Linked DNA regions of Homo sapiens. The protein of the gene in region 1 purifies or fractionates together with the protein of each later gene. This does not show direct contact. Each region holds a gene or a part of one and is shown in the gene's direction. Other genes may lie near its edges. The genes, in order: POP1, LRPAP1, TOX4, CCNT1, DICER1, RBM25 and PPP1R10.

Region 1 (3,500 bases):
ACTCATTTAACACATATTTGTTGAGAACTTATTGTGTGCCAGGCTTTGATCTGAGCAATCCTCACAACCAAAACTTCACCTCTCATGGAGGCAGACAGTAAATGACAGTGTGGTTATCAGGAAATAGGACTGCAGTCTCAACACCCGGAATTATGGAATTTTGCTTTTGTTGATGTCAGGGCTGACGTTTGCAGCAGTTCACTGCTTGTCTGGAAAGCGCCAAGGGAGCCTTGTGCTTTATCGGGTGAATAAATATCCCAGAGAAATGCTTGGGCCTGTTACGTTTATCTGGAAGTCCCAGAGGACCCCGGGTGACCCTTCTGAGAGCAGGCAGCTGTGGATCTGGCTGCATCCAACCCTTAAACAGGTATAATCCTTCAGGTTATCTCCCGTCATTCTGAAACTGCATTTTTAATTACTGCTGGAAGTCAATACTGTAGAAATGTAAATAGTGTAAAGGTTTGTCTGATAGTCTGATATTTGTATATGGGGGGCTCTATGATTATTGAATGAAGTGAATTTTTAAAAAACTTTAAAAATTTGTATTTAAAAATGTCTAATTGACAAAAAGCAAATATATTCAAAGTATATAATATGATGATTTGATATACATGTTGTATACCACAATCAAATAACACATCCATCACCACCCATGCTGTACATTATATCCCCGGAACTTGTTTATCAAATATAATGAAGTCAGGGCGGGGCATGGTTTCTCATGCCTGTAATCCCACCACTTTGGGAGGCTGAAGCAGTTGGATCACTTGAATCCAAGAGTTTGAGACTAGGCTGGGCAACACGGTGAAACCCTGTCTCTGCAAAAAAGACAAAAATTAGCTAGGATTGGTGGCATGCACCTGTAGTCTCAGCTACTTGGGAGGCTGAGGCGGGAGGATCACTTTGAGCCCAGGAGGCAGAGTTGCAGTGAGATGAAATCGTGCTATTGCACTCCAGCCTGGGTGACAGTGAGACCCTGTCTCGAAAAAAAAAAAAACTAATCTTGACATCTCATATTTTTAGTAAGTCATAAGCAGAAGTAGAGATAAAAACCAGCCTTATGCTAATTATTTGAAATGTTGAATTTGAACTAATGTTTCTACCATGACTGAAGTGGTTCACTAGTATCTAGGGGCTATTTGATAATGAAAAGCTATTTTTGAGTAATTCTAATGATTTTTCACACTGAATTTAGCTTAGCTTCCCTTCTTTAGCATACTCACTACTTTAAAAAAATGTAGTCAGAGTGATCATGTTGTTTTCATAATATTTGACTAACCCTACCCCTAGCCCCAGCCCTAATTAACCCATTTGAAATTTTCAGTTTCAAAATTTTTTTTTGTTTAAAGTGGCATACACTACTCAGAACACCCAAAAAAGCTTTTTTTCAAAAATTAAAATTAAATTAAAAAAAATTTTTTTTTCCCAGAGGGTTTTGCTCTGTCATTGAGACTTGAGTGCAGTGGTGCAGTCATAGCCCACTGCAGCCTCTACTTCCCAGGCTCAAATGATCCTCCTACCTCAGCCTCCCCGAGTAGCTTAGACTACAGGGGTGCACCACCTTGTCCAGCTAATTATTTTTTTATTTTGTGTAGGAACAAGGTCTCCCTATGTTGCCCAGGCCATGGTCTCAAACTCCTGGGCTGAAGCCATCCTCCTGCCTCAGCTTCCCAAAGTGCTGAGATTACAGACGTGAGCCACCACACCTGGCCGAAAAAAGCTTTTTGATGATAAATTTAATTTAAGTTAATTTGTGAGGGAATACAAATGTGATTTTTTTTTATTTTTTATTTTTTATTTTTTTTTGAGACGGAGTCTTGCTCTGTTGCCCGGGCTGGAGTGCGATGGCACGATCTCAGCTCACTGCAACCTCTGCCTCCCAGGTTCAAGTGATTCTCCTGCCTTAGCCTCCTGAGTAGCTGAGATTATAGGTGCCTGCCACCCAACTATTTTTTGTATTTTTCAGTAGAGATGGAGTTTTGCCAGTTGGTCAGGCTGGGCTCGAACTCCTGATCTCAGGTAATCTACCCACCTCGGCCTCCCAAAGTGCTGGGATTACAGGTATGAGCCACCGTGCCTGGCCAAAAATGTTAATTTTTAAAGAGATTTAAAAAAAAAAACCCAACTAAATTTGTCGTAATATATTTAAATTTCAAGATTTTAAAGTGAATGTTTAAATATATTTTTAGGATATCTTAGAGGAAATAAAAGCAGCGTGCCAGTGTGTGGAACCCATCAAATCAGCTGTCTGCATCGCTGACCCACTTCCAACACCATCCCAAGAAAAAAGCCAAACTGAATTGCCTGACGAGAAAATTGGCAAGAAAAGAAAAAGGAAAGATGATGGAGAAAATGCTAAACCAATTAAAAAAATTATCGGTGATGGAACTAGAGATCCATGTCTACCATACTCTTGGATCTCTCCAACCACAGGCATTATAATCAGGTATGAGTTGAATTTGCTTTGAACCTACTGAACATTTTCAGTGAAGACCTGCTCCATTTTTGTCAGTGGCACAGATGTTGTGTGATGAAAGTTTCCATTTTAAGATGTTCTTTCTTTTTCAGCGATTTGACGATGGAGATGAACAGATTCCGGCTGATTGGGCCACTTTCCCACTCCATCCTAACTGAAGCAATAAAAGCTGCTTCTGTCCACACTGTAAGAGTAAAAGTGACTGTAGTGTTTTATTCTAATCATGTTTTTCCTGTCAAATTTGTGAAACCTAATATATAATTTGGTAACATTTTGGGCCATGGCTTTTAGATGTTTATTTCCCTACTTATTATGCTTATTATCAAAGATTTTGTTATCTTTCACTTCTCCTAGAAGACCACAACTAAGTGGATATGATCAGTAAACTGACTGTTCTTACTTAAATACAGACTGCTCTTGCATCTGTGAGTCTTGTAGAGGGTCTTAACTTCTGCTTCATAGGTAGGGAGTCTCTAAAATCCCTGAAATTGTGTGCCAGATTTTGTGATGTGTGCGTGTGCCATGTAGGTTTTCTTTTCTTTTTTTTTTTCTGAGATTGAGTCTCATCCTGTTGCCCAGGCTGGAATGCAGTGGTGCGATCTTGGTTCACTGCACCCTCTGCCTCCTGGGTTCAAGCGATTCTCCTGCCTCAGCCCCCCGAGTAGCTGAGACTATAGGTGCACACCACCAGGCCCAGCTAGTAGAGACAGGGTTTCACCATGTTGGACAGGCTGGTCTGGAACTCTTGACCTCAGGTGATCCGCCCACCTTGGCCTCCCAAAATGCTGGGATTACAGGCATGAGTCACCGCACCTGGCTGGTTTTCTGGGGCTAGTTTTAGGGGTCTAGAATCTCTAAAAAGGTTAAGAGCAGTATGTCTAGGGCAGCACTTCCAGTAGAGCTTTCTGTGAGGATGATGTTCCTTTGTGCTGTCCAGTACGACAGCCATTAGCCACATGTGGCAGTTGAATACTTGAATTGTGGCTAGAGTGACTGAGGAACTGAATTTATACCTTTACTTAAC
Region 2 (2,656 bases), on another chromosome or scaffold:
GGTGGTGGTATAGACGGTCTTGGGGTAGCTGGTATAGACGGTCTTGGCGTAGCTGGTATAGACGGTCTTGGGGTAGCTGGTATAGACGGTCTTGGGGTAGCTGGTATAGACGGTCTTGGGGTAGCTGGTATAGACGGGCTTGGGGTAGCTGGTAGTGGTGCTCAGGAGGCGTGTGGGCTGCTGGTGCAGCTGGAAGCGCACCTCAGCCATGGTGTTGTGCCAGGTGTGGTTGGGGATGCAGGGGACGTTCCGGCCGCAGGAGGCCCCTGCCAGGCACAGGCAGCTGCGCGGTGTGGAAGAAGTGCCGCTCGGAGTCATGCTTGACAAGGAAGTACACCTTACTCCTCTCAGTGGTGAGGGGTCAAACCACTCCTTCCCAGCGATGGGGCCAGCAGCCTGGCGAGGGCTAGGCACCGGGGAGGGATGCTGGATTTGGAGCTGGGGGGAAGGGGTCACCCTGCATTGGGCTCCAGTGCTCCGGGTGCCATGCCTGCTCCCCCACCACTGCCACCGCAGCCGCTGCGGGACACCAGGGGCTGGGGCTGAAGAGCAGCCTCGAGCTGGGCTGTCCAGGACACGGTCGCCCTTCTTCCTCGTGTCCGTGAGCTCAGGCACAACCTGCAGCTTAGCCAGCCCACTATGGCTGCGTGCGTGGCAGGACCCGGGCCACCATGGCTGCGTGCATGGTAGGGCACATGATTATTTTAGCCTCTGGTATCACTAACCATCCCTAAAGTCTCCAATGGTCTGTTCCTGTCTTTCCCTCTGGTTCACTTGTGGGGTCATGTTGTCTTCTGTTCTTTGTTATTTATTTTTTTCTTGAGACGGAGTCTTGCTCTGTCGCCCAGGCTGGAGTGCGTTGGTGCGATCTCGGCTCACTGCAACCTCTGCCTCCCAGGTTCATGCGATTCCCCTGCCTCAGCCTCCCAAGTAGCTGGGATTATGGGCACCTGCCACCATACCCAGCTAATTTTTCTGTGTGTGTGTGTGTTTTGTTTTTTGGTTTTTTTTTTTTTTTTTTTGAGATGGAATCTCAATTGCTCAGGCTGCAGTGCAATGGCGCAATCTTGGCTCACTGCAACCTCCACCTCCTGGGTTCAAGAAATTCTCCTGCCTCAGCCTCGCAAGTAGCTGGGATTACAGGCCCCTACCACCACAGTGGGCTAATGTTTGTATTTTTAGTAGAGACAGGGTTTCACCATGTTGGCCAGGCTGGTCTCGAACTCCTGACCTCAGGCAATCCGCCCACCTCGGCCTCCCAAAGTGCTGGGATTGTAGGCATGAGCCACCATGCCTGGCCTAATTTTTCTGTTTTTAGTAGAGACAGGACTTCACCATGTTGGCCAGGCTGGTCTCAAATTCCTGACCTCAAGTGATGTGCCCACCTCGGCTGCCCAAAGTGCTGGGATTACAGGCATGAGCTTCTGTGCCCGGCCTGAACTGTTAAGTGTTTGTGAAGAATTATTTGGGGGCCTATTTGAGAGCTGTTATATGGATCATCCTCCTGGAGAGGGTTCTTAAGCCTCTGAGACCGGGTTTGGGGCTGAGGCTTTCTGACCCACACAAGTCATGCTGACCCCTGAAGGGCCGCAGGCCAGATCTTGCCAGGTGAGCACTTTCCCCGCTCACATTCAGGATAGGGCGAGGGGGTTGGTACCGATTCACCCTCAGGGCCTAGATTTGGGGGCTTCAGCTTGCTGCAGATAGGTGCTCCCTTCACTCTCACCTGAGGCTGGGCTGGAGCCTGGTGTCTGCCCCACCCTGCTGGTCAGCCCCCTAGGACCTGAGCCCCGTAAGCCTGGACTGGCCACGCCCTGGGGCAGCAGCACTGGGTGCTTGGCGCTCACGACCTTCCTGGGCCCCTGGGTCCCTCACTTCTCCCTTGTTTCTACCTTCCTGGCTTGTCAGATTCCCACAGCTCTTAAGGAGAAATTCAGTATTTACTGCAGCATGTGTTTTCAGTGTGATGGTTCATCTAGGTACCCTAGCCTGTCATTGCTGGAGTTGGAAATCTCTGTTGTCTGCTGTTGTTTTGTGAAACAAGCGCGTGAGGTTATAAGTTTCCCTCAACGTACCACACTAACCACATTTCCCTAAGTTTTGATGTGTAGTGTTTTCACTGCCATTCAGTTCAAAATATTTTCTCATTTCAAGTATGATGTCTTCTTTGATCCATGTGTATTTTTAAGTTGCTAAGTGTACTTACTTTGGCCGGGCATGGTGGCTTACGCATGTAATCCCAACACTTTAGGAAACTGCGGGGGGGAAGGATCACTTGAACGCAGGAGGCTGAGGCTGCACGTCACAGGGAGAGACGGGCCGCGGTGATGTACGAGCTTCCTGTTGATAGGCAGTTAAGTTGGTTCGGGATAACGTGGCCTGCCTGGCACGGGTATTCCCAGAGTCACAGATGCTCACCCGTGCCAGCGTTGGCTGCTTGGGACATGGGGACGGCGAGGTCCCCACACCCCACATGTGAGCTGCTGGTAGCTGGGCTGAGCCCAGGTCCCATCCGTGTGTGGGGCGTGAGTGTGCGGTGCCATCGGGTCTGCACGGGCCTCGCCTCGTCCCGGACGCTCCAGGCTTCCTGTGGCACGGGTGCCGAGAGGGACCAGCCTGGGCCTGCTGAACCGAGGGGGTGGTCTAGGGCAGAGGC
Region 3 (3,500 bases), on another chromosome or scaffold:
CAAAACAACATACATAAATACATGATTTGTGTACTACTGAGAAAAGTTCAGTTCTTGGGGAAAGTTTCAGTTTTTCCCATCAAGAACTGCGTGGTATTTTTTGTTATTTGTGTGTGTGTGTGTGCGCGTGTGAGACAGAGTCTTGCTCTGTCATCCAGGCTGGAGTGCAGTGATGTGATCTTGGCTCACTGCAGCCTTCAACTCCTGGGTTCAAGCGATTCTCGTGCCTCAGCCACCTGGGTAGCTGGGATTACAGACGCACACCACCACACCCAGCTAATTTTTGTATTTTTAGTAGAGATGGGGTTTTCCATGTTGGCCAGGCTGGTCCCGAACTCCCGACTTTTCAAGTGATCCACCCACCTTGGCTTCCCAAAGTACTGGGATTACAGGTGTGAGCCACCACTACCAGCTGAGAACTGTGTGTTCTTATGCTCCGTGTGCTACTTATATCTCAGACAACGACCAGATTTTTTACCATACCAAGTAAAATAGTAAGGAGAAGGGAAACTGTACATATATCTTTTTGTCTTTTAGGAAACTTTTACAAATGTGATTCAGAGATTGGGCATTTCACAGGCACACTTTTTTCTCCCTAGTTTCTGCTAGCTGGAAATTTTCTTTCTAGCAATGTCTTTTTTTTTTTTTTTTTTTTTTTTTTTTTTTTTTTTTGAGACAGAGTCTTGCTCTGTCACCCGGGCTGGAGTGCAGTGGCACAATCTCGGCTCACTGCAGCCTCTGCCTCCTGGATTCAAGTGATTCTCCTGCCTCAGCCTCCTGATGTAGATGGCATTACAGGCACCTGCCACCACACCTGGCTAATTTTTGTATTTTTAGTAGAGATGGATTTTCGCCATGTTGGCCAGGCTGGTCTCGAACTCTTGACCTCAGGTGGTCCACCCACCTCGGCCTCCCAAAGTGCTGAGATTATAGGCATGAGCCACGGCACCCGGCCTTTATTTTCTTTCTTTTTCTTTTTTTTTAGACATGGTCTTGGTCTGTCGCCCAGGCAGGATTGCAGTGGTGCAGTCTTGACTCACTGTGACCTCTGACTCCTGAGTTCAAGTGATCCTCGTGCCTCAGCCTCTCGAGTAGCTAGGATTATAGGTGTGTGCCACCATGCCTGACTAATTTTTTGTTCTTTTGGTAGAGACGGGTTTCACTGTGTTGGCCAGGCTGGTCTCGAACTCCTGGCCTCGTGTGATCCGCCCACCTGGGCCTCCCGAAGTGCTGGGATTACAGGCGTGAGCCACTGCTCCCAGCCTAATGTCTTCATTAAACCAGAATTAGAGGCTGGGCGCTGTGGCTCATGCCTGTAATCCCAACAGTTTGGGAGGTCAAGGCAGGGTGATGGCTTGAGCCCAGGGGTTCAAGACCAGTCTGGGCAATATGGCCAGACCCAATCTCTACAAAAAATGCAAAAATTAGCCTGGCGTCATGGCCAGGCGTGGTGGCTCACGCCTGTGATCTCAGCACTTTGGGAGGCCAAGGAGGGCGGATCACCTGAGGTCGGGAGTTCAAGACCAGCCTGACCAACATGGAGAAACCCCGTCTCTACTAAAAATACAAAATTAGCCGGGCATGGTGGCACATGTCTGTAATCCCAGCTACTAGGGAGGCTGAGGCAGGAGAATCACTTGAACCTGGGAGGCGGAGGTTGCGGTGAGCTGAGATCACGCCATTGCACTCCAGCCTGGGCAACAAGAGTGAAACTCTGTCTCAAAAATAAAATAATAATAAAAATTAGCCTGGCATGGTGGTGTGCACCTGTAGTTACTTGGGAACCTGAGGTGGGAGAATCACTTGAACCCAGGAGGCGGAGGTTGCAGTGAGCAATATCACGCCACTGCATTTTATCATGGGTGACAAAGGAGACTCTATCTCAAAAAAAAAAAAAACTGCCAGGTGCGGTGGCCCATGCCTGTAATCCCAGCACTTTGGGAGGCTGAGGCGGGTGGATCACGAGGTCAAGAGATCGAGGCCAACATGGTGAAACCCCGTCTCTATTAAAAAACACAAAAATTAGCTGGGCGTGGTGGCACACACCTGTAGTCCTAGCTACTCTGGAGGCTGAGGCAGGAGAACTGCTTGAACCCGGGAGGTGGAGGTTGTAGTGAGCCAAGATCGCGCCACTGCACTCCAGCCTGGGCCACGGAGCGAGACTCTGTCTCAAAAAAAAGAAAAAAAAAAAAAGACAGAAATGGTCATAATAGAAGAACATTTCAGGATCTAGAGGAACCTTGAGGTCTGTAAGCCCAACACTTTGGAGGCCGAGGCAGTAGGATTACTTGAGTCCAGGAGTTCGAGACTAGCCTGGGCAACACAGGGAGAGCTCGTCTCCACAAAAAATTTTAAAAATTAGCTGGGTGTGGTGGCACATACCTGTAGTCCCAGCTACTCGGGAGGCTGGGGCTGGAGGCTTGCTTGAGCCCAGGAGTTCCAGATCAGCTTGGGTGACAGGGCAAGACCCCATCTCAAAAAAAAAGAAAAGGAACCTTTAGGAACTCTATTTAAAGAATGCATTGTTCAATTATGAAAAAAAAAAATGTTGGTACCTATTGAATTTGATCTGAATCAGTTTATATTTACTATGCTATGTGTTAGATTGATAGAATTTAAAGTTTCTAAAATTCCAATTATCTGTTATAATTGGTTGGGGTGGGGGTAATCATTATTAGGATATTATCATTCATAACAATGGTTAATGATGGTGATTAAGCCATTATATGTATCAGGCAATGTGCTAAGATTTTATGCATGAAATCTCACTTATCCTCATAATAACCATATAAGGGGATTACCATTATAATTCCCATTTTACAGATGAAGAAAACTTGTTCAAGGTCTTGTACCCAGGTCTCTCTGACAGCAGTCTCTTGCTATTATTTATAAATGTCTATTGCTGTAAATGCCACCATTTAGATTTTAGTGTCAAAACAGAACCATAGCAGTTCACATCTTAATCAGACATTGTCTGTTAGCTGCATGAGTGGTGGCCTCATTCAGAAAAGAAAGAATGTGTTATTATTGACCTAGTTGGACTCAGAGGAAGAGATTGGGTCTTTAGCCAACTGGAGTAATCCTTTTCCTCTCTTAGAGAGAAGCTTGGTCAGAGCAAGACTAGCATTTTTGGCATTGTTGAGGTTTTCTGAAAATCCTATACTAATGGGAATCTTTATTTGTTGTTAACATTATAATTTCTAAAGTGGAGAAGAAGTAGGAAACTCTGCAAATATTTTAGAGGGGGTAAAGTTCCCATGACAGTACATTTTAGCATCTGTTTGAAAGGAACCTAAAACAACAAAGTATAATTGGCTGGCTGACAGCGAATTTCTGTGACCTAACAGTTTAGATGTAATAATTGTGAAATAACTGCTCTATTAGAATCTTTAGAGAGAGATTTCAAGAATCATAGTAAACAGGTTATAAAGGCTATGTCCTAAGTAATGGTACTGAAAGAATTTTTCATTAGAACCATAGGCATAATTTAAGACAAAAGA
Region 4 (3,500 bases), on another chromosome or scaffold:
CAATACATAATAGTTCTGCTTTGGCTAAATTTAAAGGCCTACTTGGCTTAAATCAAAATGAGTTGTTCTGACTTGATGTTTTTCTGTTGGGTTCTTACAAGTAATATTTTTAGATGATCTCTAGTTAAAGAGAACTAACCTCTTGAGAATGTTTGTCAAAGTTGGGCAGTTTGTGAAGTTATTTAACAGAAATTTTATGAAAGTTGTGAGGAGTGGGTGATCTTATTTTAATTCTGGGGTTGATTAAAGGCCACCTAGAGGATCATACAGAATTTATTTGGACTTTCCATGATATACAATCCCTTGGCAGAACTTTTCTTTTTAATTCTAATTTAACAATATTAGGTATAATTGAATGAAACTCTCTTATTTAGTTTAGTATCAAGAATATCTGAACACTATTGTGCCTTTAAGTGCCTTTTATGATTTTTAGGCCAAACTGATAATTGGTCTTATTTTACATTTTACTAATATGTGTTTCCTGTGAAAATTCCCAAATTTTCCTGAGTTCTTTATATTTGAAAGTATTAAAATGTTATATTGCACAAGGATAAGACTAGAGATGGGTGTATGTTAATATTGAGAAGACTATGTCCTGAGGAAGATAAAAATTTGCTTTGTCACCCAGAACAGTTTGTTTTGGAAGAAGTTAAATTTTTTCATTGTAATATATTACATTATTTGATGATTTGGGGATTAATTAATTAAATCTTAATTAGGGCTACTTAATTAAAAACTTTTTTTTTTTTTTGAGACGGAGTTTTGCTCTTGTTGCCCAGGGTGGAGTGCAGTAGCACGATCTCAGCTCACCACAACCTCCGCCTCCCGGGTTCAAGCGATTCTCCTGCCTCAGTCTTCCGAGTAGCTGGGATTACAGGCATGCGCCACCACCCCAGCTAATTTTTTATTTTTAGTAGAGACGGGGTTTCTCCATGTTGGTCAGGCTGGTCTTGAACTCTGGACCTCAGGTGATCCGCCCACCTCGGCGTCCCAAAGTGCTGGGATTACAGGCGTGAGCCACCGTGCCCAGCCTTAATTAAAAACTTTCTTAACAGCAAAAGTCACTTTTCCCAAATATGTCAAAGTCTTCTAGATTCTGATCTTGCTTCTAGATCATCTTAGTTCATCCTGTAGTTTAGTGATTCTCAGTGAATCCTTACATCAGAATCTCTGGGTTACTTGTTAAAAAATGCTTGCACCCTTCTCCAAACATTTAATTAAATTTTAGGGAGCAGGTCCAAGAATTGCATTTAAACAAGTACCTCAGATATGTGGTGTGCAGAATAAAGCTTGAGTACCTAGATCTGGAAGCAGCATAGTTATTAATGTTAAAATTAAAAATCATTGATCTGTCTACTTTGGCAGAATGTAAACGTCAGGTTTACAGGGACCATGTGTGTCTCATTTGCCACTATATTCACAGTACCTTGCAAATATTAAATGCTTACTAAATATTTGTTGAGAATGAATGGAACTAATAACTTTTTTCCTCCCCCACCCCTGACTTTTTTTTTTTTTCTTTAGCAAGCAAGGACTTAGCACAGACTTCTTACTTCATGGCAACCAACAGGTTTATATTTTAATTTTTTTTTCTCTTCGATTTTTGGTATAGGACTTTACTTGAGTTTGATACAGTGTGCTATAGATAATTCTCTGGTGAATGTTGATTTTTCTGCACAGTTTTCATGTTGTACTTTAAATTTCCATGGTACTTTTTAATTTTCTAAGGTTATGTAATTATTTAGTACTGATTTTTTTGATAACCTACTCAGTTCTGCATGATAGTGACTGAAAATCTAATTTGGAGTATTCTGCAATAATTATATGTGTATATATATATATATATATATATTTTTTTTTTTTTTTTTAAATTATTATTATTATTTTTTGAGACAGAGTCTTGCTCTGTTGCCCAGGCTGGAGTGCAGTGGCACAATATCAGCTCACTGCAAGCTCCACCTTCCAGGTTTACACCATTCTCCTGCCTCAGCCTCCCGAGTAGCTAGGACTACAGGTACCCGCCACCACGCCCAGCTAATTTTTGTGTTTTTAGTAGAGATGGGGTTTTACCTTGTTAACCAGGATGGTCTCGATCTCCTGACCTCGTGATCTGCCCACCTCAGCCTCCCAAAGTGCTGGGATTACAGGCATATATATATATATATATATATATTTTTTTTTTTTTAAGACAGAGTCTCACTCTGTCTACCAGGCTGGACTGAAGTGGTGCGATCTTGGCTCACTGCAACCTCTGCCTCCCGGGTTCAAGTGATTCTCCGGCCTCAGCCTCTTCACTAAGCTGGGATTATAGACTGGCGCCACCATGCCCCGCTAATTTTTTTGTATTTTCAGTAGAGATGGGGTTTCGCTATGTTGACTAGGCTGGTCTCAAACTCCTGGCCTCAAGTGATCCGCCTGCCTTGGCTTCCCAAAGTGCTGGGATTACAGGTGTAAACCACTGTGCCTGGCCAATAATTATATTTTAAAATATTCCTTTTTCTTCCCCCTCTATCAATCAATGGGCACTTATGGATGTTAAGAGTTTCAGTCTTTTTCCTTCTTCCCTTTTTAAAAAAAGTAAATGAGACTGGGCACAGTGGCTCATACCTGTAATCCCAGGCTGAGGCTGGTGGATCACTTGAGGCTAGGAGTTCGAGACCAACCTGGCCAACATGGTGAAACCACATCTTTACTAAAAAATACGAAAATTGGCAGGGCAAGGTGGCACATGCATGTAGTACCAGCTACTCGGGAGGCTGAGGCACGAGAATTGCTTGAACCCAGGAGGCAGAGGGTGCTGTGAGCCGAGATTGCCCCACTGCACTGCAGCCTGGGTGACAGAGAGAGAGACTCTGTCTAAAAAAAGTAAATGATTAGTACATAACTTGTATTACCAAATGACTTGCCCAACATTGTTAGTTAATGGAAACCAATGATATCCCTAGTAACTGTCAGGGCTAAGAAGTTCATTTTTATAGCCTGTTACGAAAAAGTTTTGAAATAAACCAACATATTTATACTTGAGAGAGTAGTTGTCTGTTTATTATTTTAAATAGACCAGAACTATGATTGGTGAGAGACAAATTATTTTTAAGATATTTCCTTAAGTTTTTGATTTACGGATTACACAGACCAAAAAGCTTACAATTTTCCTTAGGATCTGAGCTTAGTCTCAGGATAATAGGTAATAAATATTGACTTCTAGGCTTGAATACTGGCCCAGAAGTCAATGTTTTAAAGAACTTGAATTCCCAGCCTTTTTCCTTTTTTCCTTTTTTTTTTTTTTGGCTCTGGTCAATGTGTAGATTAAGTGATGTGTAATTCAAGAGTTTTTAAAATGTTGTTACCTGAACAGGTGGGTTAATAGGAAATTATATTGAGTGCTAGATCAGAGCATTGCATATTTCTTACCCTTCTTACTCTCCTGTCTATTTTTAAGCCTTTTTTTTTTTTTTTTTTTTTTTTTTTAAATAATGGAGAGTTTTAGCTTTGGGCTGAGA
Region 5 (3,500 bases), on another chromosome or scaffold:
TGGAAAAGCTGAATGGTATTTCATTGTATGAATATACTGCATTTTGTTTATCCATTCATCTGTCCATGGCCACTTGGGTAGCTTCTATCTTTTGGCTACTGTGAATAATGGTGCTGTGAACGTAGGTATACAAATAATTCATTGGAGTCCATGCTTTCCCTTCTTTTAGACATATACCTCAAAGTGGTCACATTGTTTCTTGATCTTCAAAACACTAGACTAGACTCAGAATTTATTGCAGTATGAGTTTTCTCAGGGTTCCTCCAAGCAGTGATAATTTCCTACAAACAACTCCTCTGTCAGTAAAATCTGTAATCTCTCTGAAGCCCAGGGTCGACTCCTTTTTACGATCTTGGTTCCAATCATAGTGTCTGGCAGGTATTCAAAAAACTGATCAAACATGGAGTGATGTGCTTTATTGAATGCCAGAGGAAGATATTGGTGAGGTCTTTAATTTGTATAAAGAGAAAGTTGGAGCCAAGTGACTTATTTTGTTTACCTTTTGCTGTGCTTTTTGGACATTCAAGAGCTTAGTTCATCCTGAAAGCCCAGTGTATGTATTATACTCGCTCTTATTCACAGGTTTCTTTGCAATTTACGACTTGCCAAATGACTAGTCTTCTGAGGCAGCATTATTTTCTTGGTATTCCACCTCCTTAGCCTGTGGGGCTTGGACCTTTTGATTTTTTGATGGCTAGTTTTCACTTCTTCCAAATTTCTGCTAAGACTCTAGTATTAGTACATTTATTTAATAGTTTATGATGTCTATTTTGAGAAAGGATTTGAAATGGTCTTATAATAGGAAAGTATTAGAGTACTATGAAAATGGTAAAGGTTGGTAGTATAGAATGTGGAGGCAGAGAATTAGATGAATGATTGGGGCAAGGAAAGGTGAGTGCTGCATGTAACTCACGTTGATTAATGAAAGGAAGCATACCAATTTGAAGCAGATTTTTCTCTTGTATGAAGAATAATCAATCTTTTGGATTATTACATTAAATAACATTAGCAATATATGGAGAAAATGTTTTACATTTTACAAACGATAGAGAAACATTTTTTCACATGCCATTTTAGAGAAACTGGATAAAAGCCTCAGGCATAATAGAAAAGCTTTAGTAATACAGGTGTTCACTGTTCCAGTGGTTTGATTCATTAATTTCTTTTGGGTGGTGTCCCTCGAATATCAGTTGTCTCATTCAGGCTGTTGACAGATGCTAAATAACAATCCATTCAGGAATAAGCTCTGTGGACAACATGGGCAGTGAGGATTTTCCAAATAGGAATTCTCACCCAGTCTTTTTTTTTTTTTTGAGACGGAGTCTCACTACGTTGCCCAGGCTGGAGTGCAGTGGTGCGATCTCAGCTCACGGCAAGCTCCGCCTCCTGGGCTCATGCCATTCTCCTGCCTCAGCCTCCCGAGTAGCTGGGACTACAGGTGCCCGCCACCACACCCTGCTAATTTTTTGTATTTTTAGTAGAGATGAGGTTTCACCGTGTTTAGCCAGGATGGTCTTGATCTCCTGACCTCGTGATCCTCCCGTCTCGGCCTCCCAAAGTGCTGGGATTACAGGTGTGAGCCACCGTGCCCAGCCCTCTCACCCAGTCTTTAGGAACGTGTGTTGGTCTAAAAAGTAAGACTGGTTGTATCGTGGTGTATACTTGATGAATTAATACAGAAAGAAAAAGATTATTTTTGAGATGTAGCTGGTGAAATTGACATTTTCAGTTATGTAATAAAGCCTTTGTTAAAATAATTCTGAGTGCAAAATGGCTTCCTCATCTAAAATTGTCAATGAATTGTTGGTACTCCTTTAACATGCAGTTACCTCAATATGCATTTTAAATAAGTGACTAAGAAGATGCTACAAAACATTCTCTGAGGATGTCAGTAAGACTGTTACTAGAAGTAAGACATGACAGGCTTAAGTTTGGCCTTAGAGTTTTTTCTTTTTGTTTTTTAGGCTTATAACAGCATTACATGTTCTTGGTTGTGTTAAGGTTTATGGAATAGTAAGGATTAGATTCTTCATGCATGTTCATTACCAGACATGGTGCTTGACATATAGGAGACACTCCGATTTGTTGAGTGAGTAAGTTAATTTATAATACTTTTTGAAGTATTTAGAAGCTAACACAGTTTTGTGGGGAAGAATATTGCTTGCATATTAAGGCTTTTAAAAAGATTATTACTATTCTGCTTTTGGACAAATCATGCTACTTGGTCCTTTTTGCTTTGTGAGGTACGTATGATTATGTGCACAGAAACATTGCAGACTGAGGGAAGTGTTAAGAATCGTGGGAGAAAATCGCCGTCAAAATTGGAGTTTAACTGTATTGCAGACTTTCTCCTTGTTGGCACAGACTAACTCTGTTGTGCTTGTTCGTTCTTTGACAGCTCAATGTATGCCATAAAGCAGGGGTTTTAACAACACATTTGAACAATTCTTGAGGATTAGAAAATGAGGTCTGTTAACCAGTTCAGAATTTTAAGAAAACAAACCGGTTGTACTTAGAGAACTTGAATAATGAGAGAAGACTCTTAGTTTAAAAACTGATCTTTGACATGATGTAGGAAGGTTCTTTGATTAAGAAGTTAAATGACCCTGTTTGAAGGGAAAAAGAAAGGTAGTAGTCGTATTTAGTCGTATTTAGTCCTCTGAGATGTTTCGAGATTGCAGGATTTCTGTCTTTCCTCTTTTGGTAACATCCTGGGAGGTGAGATTAACATGATGAACTCACAGCCTGTCCGCCTCTTATGCATCCTGCTGCCCAGCCATCACTGTCAGTTGCTCTGATTCATGGTATTTTAAGTTCTTTCCACTTTGCAGAGTTAAATATTAATGTTTTATCATAGCTTTGTAGGGATGCTTAAGAGCAAGTGTTTGGCGTCAGAGAGACCAGGGTTCAAATCCTGATTCTTCGACTTTATAGCCGATGAGCACTGGGCATATGGCAACGTCTCTTGAGTCTCAGCTTCCTTGTCTATAAACTGTCGTAGTGGTGTTTGCCTCTTGAGGTTTTGAGAAAAAAAAGGAGTTTCTTAAACTCTCATGGTACATAACTAGCATTTGATAAAATTAATGTAATATTTTTCTTTTAAATACGTGTATTAGAGAAAATTTTAACATGCAATAGTCTTAATGTGATTAGATTATATTGTGAGCCCCCAAATTATCAATATTGAAATGTATGGTCTAGTAATATAATGGAGGATGAAGGAAAAGAGGGCTTGAGAACAATATTTTACAGACAAGTTTTCGAGGAGGATTATCTATACTGGTTCAGCTATCTTAGTTGGTCTCTGTAGTAGTGATACCAAATGTAACAGTGCCTTAAACGTCTCTTAACTTTCCCTAAATAACACATTCTTCATCTGCTATGCATGAATTAACACATCATCCTTGAAATCATACTTCAATTCAGTGTATAAAGCCAAGTGTTTTGTAAAATAAACCTCAAGTTAGGTTTTATGTTTCCTTATGATTAGATTCAGGTTT
Region 6 (3,433 bases), on another chromosome or scaffold:
TCATTAGTGTTTAAAAATGTACTGATGATGTGCTTAGAGAAATTCCTGGGGCTTTCTTCGTTGTAGATCAGAATTTCACCAGGGAGTAAAATTACCTGAAAACGTAAGAAGTTTTAAACAGCTTTTCACACAAATTAGATGCAACTGTTCCCATGTCTGAGTACTTATTTAAAAGAAAGGTAAAGATTGGCCTGTTAGAAAAAGCATAATGTGAGCTTTGGATTACTGGATTTTTTTTTTTTTTAAACACACCTGGAGAGGACATTTGAAAACACTGTTCTTACCCTCGAACCCTGATGTGGTTCCATTATGTAAATATTTCAAATATTAAAAATGTATATATTTGATCCTGGGGACTCATATTCTTTCAGAATCATGTAAATAAATGGCATCATGTTGTAATTGTGTGGTGCATACTAGAAAAGTTAAAAATATGGGCTGAACTTTTTATGGACTTGATTTTTATGACTATTGGTATCTAAAGGTCAAGGAAGCCATTTACATTATTTTGGATGAATCTACTATACATCTATGGAAATGTCTCTTTTATTTTAAATTCTGGTTTCTCAACGGAAAATTTCAGAAAAGATGCCCCTTGCCATTTTCGTTAATTTTTCAGTCTTTTCTTAGACACACCCCCAGCCTAAGACCTTGTTCGAGGAGTTTATTGTGTCTGTCTTTTCTTAACATACTGCACTGTTCTTAAGCATCATATTGTGTTGTTTTTATTTAGCCACTATTAACATGAAGGTTTATTCAGGTAGATTTGATTTCCTTTGCTTCGTTTCTTCTCCTGCTCTGTCAACTGTACTTATCTTAAAGGGCCACTCTAAAAACAAGGGAGATGTCGTAATCTGAAACCTTTGGGGAGATGTACTCTGTACTGCATAACATCTCCAGTGAGGTTTGTGACAGGACCTCAACTAAATATATGAATTTGTGCAAGTTCATATATTAAAGTTTCTGCAGCAGAGTGAAAATTGTTACAGTAAATGTGGTAGAAACTGTTAATCGCTTAATGCCAGTTTAAATCATGTTTTGTAACCAAGCTTCAGTAAAAGGCTTTAGATTGTCAGAGTTGGTTGATTTTTAGAATTGTATATATAAAGAATTAGACATTAAACAGGCATATTCTAGTGTCTGAAAATACACATAAGAAATTTCTATTAAGTTGCTTGAACTTTGTGGGTTAATTTTACCATAATCTCATAAATTAATTTTAGTTTGAAAACCTTATACAGTATGAATTCATTTTGCCATTTCAAGTTGTTATATAAAGAGCATGAAAGTCTTTTTTTGTTGTTTTTTTGGGGTTTTTTTTTTTTTGAGAGGAAGTTGTGCTTTTGTCGCCCAGGATGGAGTGCAATGGCGCGAGCTCAGCTCACTTCAACTTCCGCCTCCCGGGTTCTGGAGATATTCTGCTTCAGTTTTCTGAGTAGCTGGGATTACAGGTGCCCACCACGACACCTGGCTAATTTTTTGTATTTTTAGTAGAGACAGGATTTCACCTTGTTGGCCAGGCTGGTCTCAAACTCCTGACCTCAGGTGATCCACCCGCCTCAGCCTCCCAAAGTGCTGGTATTACAGGCGTGAGCCACCTTGCCTGGCCAAAGCGTGAACATCTTAAGAACCAGTCTTGATCTGGCAAAAAAGTAGTAGAATACTACTTTTCTTTATTTGTCCCTAAAAATAAAGTATGTACATCTGTTCACAAGGAAGAAAGGTAAGTTTGAAGTTGTTTTTCTTAAACTTTAATGTGACCCCAAATCATCTGAGGAGTGCTTGTAGAAATAGAGACACTGAAGTAGCAGCGCTGGGGTGGCGCCGCAGGCTTTGCATTTCTGGACAGCTCCCAGCTAATGTCATTGCCAACTGATCCAAGACTACATTTTGATTAGCACTTTAAGGTGTCTATTCAGTATTATTTTATCCTAACAGACTACATAAATGCAGCTGAATTTTCCTTTAAGTAGATTTTAAAGAGAAAAACATTTTTTGAGGCAAATACACGTAACTCATGAACGTAATGTAATCTTGCAAAATTATGTCTGAGAAAGCCCTAATATTCTAGGCTTTTTTTCCATCCAGCCCTGAAAATTTTTTCTGTAGATAACTTTATGTTGTAACTTATTCTGAATCTTATTATGGCATTTCCCTGTAAACTATGTAAGTGTAAGCTAATGATTATTTTGTGAAGCGTGCTGTTTCAGGTATTAATCTGCCATGAATACTAGATATAGTAGAAAAACTGAGAAAACATTTAGCTTGAGAGCCAATTTGAACTAGACACTATCTTTTTTTCTCCTTTTTAATGGAATAAATTTAATGCAAATAAGTGTAAGCAGGTATACAATGTTTAGATGAGGCTTATTTTCCCAACTCTTTTTAACAGGTTTTATGATATCCCCAATTTATACCCAAAAGACTGCTGAGAGGTTTTATGTCAAATTGATTACAAACTTCTCTGGGTTGTATTTCAGTCTTCTGTTAAGTATGAAATTGAGAAATAGTTTTGCTCAACAAAAGATGATGAGGGATTGATTTGTGAATGTCACTGGAGATAAAAGGGTATGAGAAGGAATCCCAAGCAGGCAAAGAAACAGTCTAGCTGTCAAGAAGAAAACAGGGAGATACATACCAAACCCAGGAGCTACTAATATAACAATCATACTATAGAGCGAAGTGAACTTACACTTTTTGATAAACTGATAGATTTTTTGTAATGTGATTATGGTAAAATACTGAAATATTTATGTTAATTTATTTGCATTTGAATGCTTACATTTTTAATTGACAGAATCTTTGCATTTCATTACTTGAGTCATGAAGGCGAAATTAAAGAATGGCAGTCTAAAATACCCAGGTAAAGAAGATAATTTCTAGAAACAAAAATAAAAATTCTTTTCAAGCCATGTTGTTTGAATTAAATGACACTCCTGAGTCTGTCTACTTTTTTTTTTTTTTTTGAGACAGCATCTTGAACCCAGGAGGTGGAGGTTGCAGAGAGCCGAGATTGCGCCACTGCACTCCAGCGTGAGCAACAAGAGCAAAACTCCATCTCAAAAAAATACATGTATTTCTGTTAGCTGATCATCTAATGGTGGCAAAAAAAATTACACGAGTTCAGGAACATCATTAGACATAAATACAAAATACTATGTGAATTATCAAATGTGATAAGCTGAGAGGAAATGGGAAATAGGAAGATTCTCAGTAGAAGTAGTAATATGTGGAAGGGGCTTTAGAGGTCACCTAGTCTGTTTTGCCCATTGTAATTATGTCAGTAGTCCCTGCAGGTGGTTTATCTAGAGGAGTATATATGGGGTTCTAATTCATGGTCTAGCATTGCACTATTAAATAACCACTAATGACAAGTAGTTTTACATGCATTCACGTGAAATCTTTCTGTTTGTTTGTTTGAGATAGGGTCTGC
Region 7 (3,500 bases), on another chromosome or scaffold:
GGACCAGATTCGCATCTTTGCTTTTGAAAGCACAAACCACTAGCTTCCTTTTAACTTAGAGACAGTAAAAACTTGTGTAGTGTTTGGCTAATGAGTGACAGTCTATTCAAGGTCTAGGAGGACCTGCTTGATTTCCATGCATCCATTTGTCTCAATCTCTGGCACCTACTCCCAGATCTCCTTAGGGAGGGATTCTGTTTTCAAGTTTTGTTTTGTTCTCCATCATCTACCACTTCAGCTGATACATATCTTGCCATGTGTAGTGATTATGACTCTTAATGGGCTAAGATAAAAAGGACTCAAGTCTTATAAGACATTTAGCTCAAACACCCAAGATTGGCCCAATTTCTATCAAGCTATAGGCTGTTTTTCAAGCCAAATTTATCAGCAACTAGGGAAGACAGGACTTAACGATAGGTGTAAATGCCCTGGAGAGTTGAACATCTTGTTATGGGAACTGATCTTAGCTTTAATACGATCTAGTGAAGTTCAGCCATCCTAGGAAGGATGCTGCTGGGAGGGAGGGACAGGTGTGCTGCCCTACTCCTCCAATCGAATTGCTTTCCTGTTCAGTCACATATGCTCCCCATGCTTAACTTGCCAGGGCTATTTTCTCAGTAGTGGCAAGTGGTCTGTGTCGATTTTTCATATCTAAAAAATAGCATAGTTGAATAATTAGTCATTATACTTTGTCAAATATAGAGATGTGGTTTATTAGAGGGCCTACTCGGGTAGTCCTTGCCACCCATTTATTCTGTGGGTTTGTTTGTTTTGTCCTCTTACCATAGAAACCACCATCATGGGTTCGGGTCCCATAGACCCCAAAGAACTTCTCAAGGGCCTGGACAGCTTCCTTAACCGAGATGGGGAAGTCAAAAGTGTGGATGGGATTTCCAAGATCTTCAGGTGAGTCTTTACCCCTTTTTGTATTCACTGTGAGTAGAGAATATTGTGTGTTAAAACATGGCTGCAGTTGAGGCACACTGGAATGATCCTGGAAAGGAAAGGGAAAGATAGTCAGTGCAATAGGATTAAAATGTAACAATTTTAGGATAAGGGATAGGAAAAGATGATCACTTGTTTCTGACCATAATGGAAACTGGAGATTTGGACGTCCACGGTCCCAAGGGAGTCATGCTTTGGAATGAGAGCAGGGTAGCCTGGTAACAGAATTCTAGATTGTTTTGGTTCGTGTTCCACCTACCCATAATGTTATTTTCCTTCAGGGATTCTCAGGTTTTTCAGGGGAGAGTAAATAACTAAGCCAGTCTTGAACAGACTATTAGGGACAGTTGTTGAGGGATAGCCTTATCACCTGGAGGCAGAATGGAATTCATCCTGTGTGTTACGGAGGCAGCGATGCTCTCCTCCCCAGGTCAGAGACTGCGGTGTCTCTGTTCTCCCATAAGTTTCCATGTCACACTGGATCCATCCCATCTTCCTAGAGGTATATGTGACTCCCCTTCTCTGGAGCAAAGTCCCAAGTCATTAGGAATCTCTAGGCAGTTCACAGAGAGGCGCTTTTGCTAAGAGAAGAGATACTGGCTGCTTCATTTCTAACCCTAACTCATCTTCTGCAGTTTGATGAAGGAAGCACGAAAGATGGTGAGTCGATGCACTTACTTGAACATTCTCCTGCAGACCCGTTCACCAGAAATATTGGTCAAGTAAGTGGGGATCTGGATGGTTGGAATGGGAAGGTGTAGCGAAAAGATGGGGCGGTGAGGCATGGGGTTCCTCGGTCATTGATGGGAGACTGGGATTGTAGGATGTGGTACTGTCAAAACCTAGAAAGGGCATTACTGATAGACTCTCCTGCCTGCCTGCAGATTTATTGACGTTGGCGGCTACAAACTTCTTAACAATTGGCTGACGTATTCAAAGACAACCAACAACATTCCCCTCCTCCAGCAAATTCTACTGACCCTGCAGCATCTACCGCTCACTGTAGACCATCTCAAGCAGGTACCTTTAGTCTTTAAACCCTGATTCTTCCTTTTTTGGTTTAGTCTAATGGATGAAAAACTCAAACTGACTGATGTGGCTGTAATCTTGGGCCTGTGAGGTAGAACAGCAGAAAAAAAATAGGAATTTAGAAGAAGAAGACTTGGTTTGAATTTATCTCCTTTAATAGGTGTGTGGCGGCTGGGCACGGTGGCTCACGCCTGTGATCCCAGCACTTTGAGAGGCTGAGGCGGGCGGATCATGAGGTCAGGAGACTGAGACCATCCTGGCTGACGTGGTGAAACCCCGTCTCCACTAAAAATACAAAAAATTAGCCAGGCATGGTGGCATGCGCCTGTAGTCCCAGCTAATCAGGAGGCTGAGGCTGGAGAATCGCTTGAACCCAGGAGGTGGAGGTTATTGTGAGCCGAGATCGCACCACTGCACTCCAGCCTGGGCGACAGAGTGAGACTTCGTCTCAAAAAAAAAAAAAAAAAAGGAATGTGTCAGCCAGGTGTGGTGGCTCACACCTGTAATCCCAACACTTTGGGATGCTGAGGTGGGTGGATTGCTTGAGCCCAGTAGTTCAAGACCAGCGTGGGCAAAAATGATAAAACTCTGTCTCTACAAAAAATACAAAAAATTTACCCAGATGTGGTGGTGCATGCCTGTAGTCTCAGTTATTTAGGAGGCTCAGGTGGGAGAATCATTTGAGCCTGGGAGGTCGAGGCTGCAGTGAGCCAAGACTGCGCCACTGCACTCTAGCCTGGGCAACAGAGTGAGACTCCGTCTCAAAAAATAAAAAAAAAAAAAAAAGCAGGGAGGACTGTAACTTTTGTCGTTTTTAGCTCTAAGTGGAATTATTTGCCTCCTGGCATTTACCTTTCTGCTGCTCCCATCTCTCATAGAACAACACAGCTAAACTGGTGAAGCAGCTGAGCAAGTCAAGTGAGGATGAAGGTAGGGTGCCACTTCTGCTCTCTCATGGGCTTTTCTCTATTACTTCCACTTAATTACCTTAATATCTTTTCCCATCCTTGGATTGTCCCTTCACTTTTCTCTTTCTACCTCACCTTGCTTTTTTTCCTTCTTTTAAAGAGAAAGTTCCTCTAACCTGTACCCTCTTTCCTGTTCTCAATTCCAAAGTTGTTCATTTCTCTGTTGCTGAATATAAGGTGCCATACTTTAACTGGAAGCTGATTCCTAAAATTGCTTGTTATAAAACACATACACTTAAAATTTGCTGTGGGAAATAGTATCATCCTAGCGTGTCTCATCTGTGAAACTCCTATTACTAAATGATAAATTATGAAATGAGTTTATAAGTGGAAATGTTGGCCAGAAGAGAGGTGCCATAGATCAGAGATGTTATTTGCCAAGTACAAAAGGAAAGAGTTACAAAGTATTTTTTCATATATTTAGAAACAAATTTTATTCTTGTTTTCACATCTATAAAGGAAAATAAAAAGTCTTCAGATTGTTGTAACAATTAGGTGTGTTATACATAAAGCAACTAACGTAGCTTTTTAAAAAAATGTCAGTTTTTGAGGAACTGG

What was found.
Region 2: the proteins of POP1 (region 1) and LRPAP1 purify together in Homo sapiens (affinity purification with mass spectrometry, with the first as the bait; one large-scale study listed by BioGRID). This does not show direct contact.
Region 3: the proteins of POP1 (region 1) and TOX4 purify together in Homo sapiens (affinity purification with mass spectrometry, with the first as the bait; one large-scale study listed by BioGRID). This does not show direct contact.
Region 4: the proteins of POP1 (region 1) and CCNT1 purify together in Homo sapiens (affinity purification with mass spectrometry; one large-scale study listed by BioGRID and IntAct). This does not show direct contact.
Region 5: the proteins of POP1 (region 1) and DICER1 purify together in Homo sapiens (affinity purification with mass spectrometry; one large-scale study listed by BioGRID). This does not show direct contact.
Region 6: the proteins of POP1 (region 1) and RBM25 purify together in Homo sapiens (affinity purification with mass spectrometry, with the first as the bait; one large-scale study listed by BioGRID). This does not show direct contact.
Region 7: the proteins of POP1 (region 1) and PPP1R10 purify together in Homo sapiens (affinity purification with mass spectrometry, with the first as the bait; one large-scale study listed by BioGRID). This does not show direct contact.

What each region holds. Positions count from the first base shown.
Region 1 is NC_000008.11:98,134,293-98,137,792, forward strand, and holds part of POP1 (ribonucleases P/MRP protein subunit POP1), read left to right. Parts: intron 1-179; coding exon 180-367; intron 368-2,189; coding exon 2,190-2,446; intron 2,447-2,568; coding exon 2,569-2,662; intron 2,663-3,500. UniProt on the Homo sapiens protein: Component of ribonuclease P, a ribonucleoprotein complex that generates mature tRNA molecules by cleaving their 5'-ends. Also a component of the MRP ribonuclease complex, which cleaves pre-rRNA sequences.
Region 2 is NC_000004.12:3,503,112-3,505,767, reverse strand, and holds the end of LRPAP1 (alpha-2-macroglobulin receptor-associated protein precursor), read left to right. Parts: 3' UTR 1-2,156; downstream 2,157-2,656. UniProt on the Homo sapiens protein: Molecular chaperone for LDL receptor-related proteins that may regulate their ligand binding activity along the secretory pathway.
Region 3 is NC_000014.9:21,483,695-21,487,194, forward strand, and holds part of TOX4 (TOX high mobility group box family member 4), read left to right. Parts: intron 1-3,500. UniProt on the Homo sapiens protein: Transcription factor that modulates cell fate reprogramming from the somatic state to the pluripotent and neuronal fate. In liver, controls the expression of hormone-regulated gluconeogenic genes such as G6PC1 and PCK1.
Region 4 is NC_000012.12:48,696,208-48,699,707, reverse strand, and holds part of CCNT1 (cyclin-T1), read left to right. Parts: intron 1-1,524; coding exon 1,525-1,570; intron 1,571-3,469; exon of another isoform or gene 3,470-3,500. UniProt on the Homo sapiens protein: Regulatory subunit of the cyclin-dependent kinase pair (CDK9/cyclin-T1) complex, also called positive transcription elongation factor B (P-TEFb), which facilitates the transition from abortive to productive elongation by phosphorylating the CTD (C-terminal domain) of the large subunit of RNA polymerase II (RNA Pol II).
Region 5 is NC_000014.9:95,151,030-95,154,529, reverse strand, and holds part of DICER1 (endoribonuclease Dicer), read left to right. Parts: intron 1-3,500. UniProt on the Homo sapiens protein: Double-stranded RNA (dsRNA) endoribonuclease playing a central role in short dsRNA-mediated post-transcriptional gene silencing.
Region 6 is NC_000014.9:73,120,967-73,124,399, forward strand, and holds the end of RBM25 (RNA-binding protein 25), read left to right. Parts: 3' UTR 1-2,933; downstream 2,934-3,433. UniProt on the Homo sapiens protein: RNA-binding protein that acts as a regulator of alternative pre-mRNA splicing. Involved in apoptotic cell death through the regulation of the apoptotic factor BCL2L1 isoform expression.
Region 7 is NC_000006.12:30,607,244-30,610,743, reverse strand, and holds part of PPP1R10 (serine/threonine-protein phosphatase 1 regulatory subunit 10), read left to right. Parts: intron 1-788; 5' UTR 789-799; coding exon 800-906; intron 907-1,580; coding exon 1,581-1,667; intron 1,668-1,829; coding exon 1,830-1,965; intron 1,966-2,852; coding exon 2,853-2,904; intron 2,905-3,500.